Linked DNA regions of Homo sapiens: region 2 is linked to region 1. The links come from fine-mapping of genetic effects on gene expression. A gene starts in region 1. The other region holds a variant in brackets. All regions are shown on one strand. Distances are from middle to middle. Region 1 holds the start of TSPAN7 (tetraspanin 7). Region 2 overlaps TSPAN7 (tetraspanin 7).

Region 1 (2,917 bases):
GACTAGTCTCTTAGCAATCAAGCTAAATCTCCCACTGAATCTGTGTGTTCCTCTACAAACCATATCTGGGTGGAATGTACGTTTTTATTGTGATATAATTAATATATCATAAAAGTCATCCTCTTAAAGTATACAACTCAGTGGTTTTTAGTAATTCACAGTATTGTGCAACCATCATCACTATGTAATTCTAGAACATTCTCATTACTCTAAAAAGAAGCCGCTTACCCATTAAAAGTCACCTCATTCCTGCCTCCCACTCGCTGCAACCACTAATCTCTTTTGTCTCTATGGATTTGTCTATTTTGGATATTTCCTATACATGAATCATTCAATATGTGGTCTTTTGTGTCTGGCGTCTTTCGCTTAGCATATTTTCAAGGTTCATCCACGTTGCAGCATTTACCAGTAGTACTTCATTCTTTTTTGTGGCCGAATAATTTTCCGTTGTATGGAGGCACCGAATTTTGGTCATCCACTCATCAGCTGACGGATATTTGAGTTGTTTCCAATTTTTGGCTATTGTGAATAATGCCGCTATAAACATTCATGTATATGGTTTTGTGTGGGCATATATTTTCATTTCTCTTGGGTAAATACCCAGGAATGGAGTTGCTAGATCATATGCAAACTCTGTTCAACTTTTTGAGGAACTCCAAATTGGTTGTGAACATTATTTTTTGACCTCAATGCAGCTTTCCTTTACAGGAGGGAGGTGGACTGTACTTGTTAGCGCGCTGCAAATGATTCTCAGGCATATTAAACATTTTTCTGTATTCTGTTAAACATTGTATGCGCAGCAAGAATGACGCCTCATACAGACCTTTCTTGTCATTTCGTTTTATTATTTCAAAATGTAAGACAAATCTGAAAAATGGAGGAGCCTGCAGATACCTGTGGTGGCGAGGATTTGGGGTCTGTCTGAGCTCCGGCGTTCCTGCCCATCCCTCCAGCTGTATCTCTGGCCACCTGTCTGTTCCTGGCACAAACAAGGCCTGCTGGTTGCCAAGGACATGACTACGGGGCCATTTCCATGTGAGAAGGCCCTGGGGGGTGTCAAAATGCAGAAACGTGACTGATGGGCAGCGGGGCACCCATAAACTTCCCATAGCCAGGTGCAGGCATACCTGCAAATGTAACGCCCAACTGTGTACAAAGCAGAAATCTAAATGCCAGGGCGGACTGGGAGAGGTTCCCGTGACCTCTGACCCGGCCTCTAAATTCTCCCATTCCCTCCCCACTGTCCTGCCGCGCCCCGTGTCGCCTCGCCTGGCCTCGCCTGGCCTCGCCTCCCTCCTCCGCTGGGGGTCTAAGCCTGCGCAGTATTGCGAACGCGGGCGGCGTTTCCCGCATGCGCAGTCACTGCCCGGCCCGGCTTTTTCAGTAGGAGCCCCGCGCGGTGCGCGCTCACGCACGCGCACGGCCTCGCCTGCGCGCTCACGAGGCCTCTCGCGGCACGCGCCCCCGCCCCGCGCCGCCCCGCCCCGCCCCGCCTCTTCCCCCTCCCGCGCGCCCGCCCGCCGCCTGCCGCCGCCGCCGCCGCCGCCGGAGCTCTGTAGTATGGCATCGAGGAGAATGGAGACCAAACCTGTGATAACCTGTCTCAAAACCCTCCTCATCATCTACTCCTTCGTCTTCTGGGTAAGTGCCCACGCCGGGCCGGTGGCCGAGTCGCTGTCCATCGGTCCGTATGATGATGCTCTGAGAAAAGAAGTGGGGAGGAAAACCCAAACCAAAAATCAAATCTGGGACCCCTCTTTAAGGAGACAGGCGCGGGGTGCTGGGTCGGGGCTGCAGGATGGCAGGGTGCGGGTCGGGGCTGCTGGAACCCTAGACCTCGCTCCGCGCAGGCTGCAAGGGGCTGCGGAGTGTCGGTGACTGCAGGTTGTCGACCTTCCAAAAAAAAAATGTTAATGCATTAGTTTCTTTTATAATCTCCCGGGATAGGGTCAGCTCCTGGGGAAAGTTGCGGGTTTATTCGTCTGTTTTCCTCGCTGTACACCTTTCTCTCCCTTCCCCTACCAGCCGGTTCGCGGCGCCTCTTGGAGCTAACCTGTGGCGGGCTAGGAGAGGACACGGGAGCGTGGGGTTTAATCTCAGATTCCCAGTTATTCCTGACCCCACGGGGCTGCGGGAGGGAGGCACCAGAAGCACCGTGCCTGCCTGGCTGGGCAAGGGCGACCGAAGTCTCCCAAGCGCACGATGGGGAGCAGGCGTTGTCACCGCGTGGAGGCGCACGAAAGGGAGAGGGTCTTACATAAGCCGGGGGCATCTTTGAGGTTTCTTGGTGACCCAAGAGATGAGTCTTTGGATTCCTTTCCCACCTCCCTGCATCCTTACACTCCCTATCTGGTGGTTCTGTCACTGCATGAGCACAATCCGCAGCGCCCTGGCAGAGGGTCCCCTCCACTTGGTGATAGAGATAGCGCCCCAACTCTACTCCCCATCTATCCAGTGCTGCCGCCGGTCCTTGAAGCTCAATGCAGAAGGGTGACGTCACCCCTCAGCCAGGGCCGCGGGGGGCTGCGTGGTGCACCTCGCGGAGGGATGCGCCTTTCTGCGCGGGGGAGGGGGGAGGAGGAGGAGGGGGAGGAGGAGGAGGAGGAGGGGGCTCCAGGCTTGTGCCTTACCTCATCCTGTTTGGCAAATCATGGAATCAGTGCAGGGCTGACACTGCAGTGATTCACTGAGAGAGGTGCGTGGTACTTAAAGACCATTCCCTGTTATTTCTCTTTTCATGTCGGTGACCCCGTCTTCCCTAGTTCCTTACGCCCATAATCAAGCTACAGCTACCCCGCAGGGGAATGAATATCGACCCTCTTCCCCCCTTGTCCCCCAAATCTGGGTCATTTTAGCTTCTACGGCAGTCATTTTGAAATCTGAGGCTCTGTAGGAAAAGCCAGTTCAACCTTTGCTT
Region 2 (2,917 bases), 92 kb after region 1:
AGCTTCACTGATTCTTAAAGTCATCCAGGATTTCTGACTCTAAGTGATGTAGAGTGTATTTGCTTATGGAAAATAGAAGAATTAAAATAATAAGGCAAATACTCCTTCCAGTGCCATATCCTCTTTTAAAGAACACAGCTCATTTTCATTGCAGCCCCATTACACTGAACAGGCTTTTCTCTTGCTCTTAATGTGTCAAAATTGTATGACCTATCGCTTCCTTTGAAGATCAAAGGAAATGAAACTCCAGATCTGGGAAAATGGTTTCCCCAATTCCTGTGCTGTTAATGCTCCTATTCATCCATGTATGAAAATCCAGGGAGATAATTGGCTAGCAAAGGCTAGCCAATTAGCTAGCACAAGTCTTCTGGGACAATAGTCAGAATGAGAACAGGTTTTGAGAAACAGTGTAACTTAGGCCTTCCTGCTGGGTTCCCAGTCATAGGACTTCTGTCCCATGGTTGCATCCAGAGTCTCTATGGGGCTGCCCAGAAAGCTGTTTACCTTCTGTTGTAACACCTCCCAAGGCAACCCACTCCATTTTGGGCAGTGCCTATTATTAGAAAGTTCTTCCTTGTAATGAGCCAAAAATCTGTTTCCCTATAACTTTCCCTAATACTGGCTTAAATATAGATTTTTGAGGACTGGCCTAGAAACAAGCCACCAGGTATAACATGGTTTCTCAAAGAAAATACATTTTGAGTTTCAAACAAGTAATGTATAAATAATCCAGAACACAGCCCAGTTCATAAAATGGAGTATGCCCAATAAGGGGCACGGGAGGCCCGTCCCAGGAAAGGAGAAGGGAAAAGGCCAGTGCCCCCAGGGTCAGTCTGTAGAGTCCGTTTCTTCCCACTCTGCGTTTACCCATGTTTCCTGGCTATTGACAATTAGAAACTGCCCAAGAAACCTCGCTGTGGAAATTGGTTCAGGGTACTGGTTTCCTCACAGCTCACTCGTAGGAAGCCCTTAGGCAGTATAAAGAAAACCAGGCTTCTCTTTAGCGTTCACCTACCTAGACGAGAGGGTCAGTGACTGGGTAATATTGGACAGAGGAACTCAGCCCTTGGCCTTGACTGCTGTTACTTACACTGCCGCAAGAGGCAGAATATAATAATGGCCAAGAAAACTGCCTTCGAGTTGGACAGAAATTGATTGGACTCCGGGCTATACCACTTATTTGCTTTGTGACTTTGAGCACGTTGCTGAAAGTCAACAACCGAAAGCCTCAGGTTTTCATCTGCAAAACAGAGATTAAGAATAAATGTGATGAAGC[G/A]TATAAGGAGCACGGTACTGCTCAATAAATGTCGTTTATCACACACATACATGGTTAACTCTGTTTCCAGACTGTGCCCTTCGTTCATGAACAGCCAATCAAATCCCCCTCCCAGGCTGTGGGGTGAGCAGATACGATGCGGTTGCCTTATCTCGTGACTCAGCCCATCACTTTTGGTTAGAGCTACTTTGAAAGGCAATTCCACAGTTTCAGAGTGGGTTCTTCTCATATATGTTGCACCTGTGGCCTCTTGTTTCTCTTCTCAGGGCCAAAACCAGAGTACTTAAGTTTCTTAAGCTTTCGTTCTAGAATGTGCTTGGTGGAAAACCAATACTCAAGACACTACAGTTTTCCATGTGTTTGTCAAGCTTTATTGATTCTTCAGATCAGTCCTCCCATAGGTTTGTTCCTGGTGCTAATGATATTGAACATTTCTGGTTCACGTCGACATACACATGAAGATATTTATTTCCCATACTGGCTTTTAAAGTATCAAACTATAGCTTGGAGTGGAACATGCTTTCATTTCTATAGATTTACCTGCTTGAAGGAGGGGAATAATGCATAGCCTTTTATTATTTTTTTTATTATACTTTAAGTTCTAGGGTACATGTGCACAACGTGCAGGTTTGTTACATATGTATACATGTGCCATGTTGGTGTGCTGCACCCATTAACTCGTCATTTACATTAGGTATATCTCCTAATGCTAATGGATAGCCTTTTAAAATAAATGAATTATTGGCCATGCCTATAGATCTTATTTATTTTTAATTATGGCAGCCAAATTCTCAGGGTTGATTCAAGGAAAAATCAGTGCCAGGATGGACGATGCTGGCTTATGAACTCCTCTTATGGAAGAGTTAGGAGTAAAGGGTTGAGGAGAAAGAACCTTCTACAGACAGGCTAAAGAGGACATTAAAGGAAAGCAGTAGTGGAGGGTCAGGGCTTTGAGTAACTGTTCTGCCATTTAGTGGCGATGACCTTGGGCACGTTTCATAGGGTTATTAAGAAGATTGAGCCAGATAAAGCATTAAAGCACTTAGCATAGTACAGGGCACACAGATAGTAAGCACCTCAGTTGTACATTTTTTAAGAGACAGGGAAATCTTACTTAAATGCTGTTCATTATCTTGGCTCCTAACCATCAGCTACAGACCTCATAGAGTTATAGGATATTAGAGCTTCAAATTACTTTTCTATTAGTGGTGATGGATTAGAAGGAACTATTCCCATGCTTTCTCATTTAGTCCCCCTTGTGGCCAAAAGCAGACATTTATGAAGCAATGTGCTGGATTAGAAGCAATTGGCTAAAGCACAGGTTTTTATCTGAGTGCAACTGCCAGGGCCTTACAGTAGTCAGGCCCACCATTTAGCCTCCTTGATGCAGTGCTAGTGAGAATAGACTTTATGCCTCCAAAGCTCATACTTACTTACCTGCCTGCTGTCTTGTATTTGGTCAGTTAGCAAATATTTAACTAAGCCCCTCCTGTGAGCCGGCATTTGTATTGGCCCTGGGGATACACCCATGAATAGGATGAATAGGACAAAAATCCTGCCCTCACAGAACTTAACATTCATTTTGGTAGACAGACAAAGTGAGTAAGGTAAATAGTATACAAAGGTGATAGGTGCAGTGGC

Evidence for each region.
Region 2: its variant is fine-mapped to the expression of TSPAN7 in whole blood (TOPMed, PIP 0.97).

Annotation. Positions count from the first base shown.
Region 1 is chrX:38,559,987-38,562,903 of GRCh38, forward strand. It overlaps TSPAN7 (tetraspanin 7), which reads left to right and starts at 1,556. Exons shown (of 8, transcript NM_004615.4): 1 at 1,556-1,641. The coding sequence starts at 1,561. RefSeq lists an enhancer at 1,656-2,157.
Region 2 is chrX:38,651,917-38,654,833 of GRCh38, forward strand. The region is part of intron 1 of TSPAN7 (tetraspanin 7); the gene reads left to right. Among named protein-coding and RNA genes, the nearest start is that of TSPAN7, 92 kb to the left of the region's middle. The variant G/A (reference allele first, on the strand shown) is at 1,277.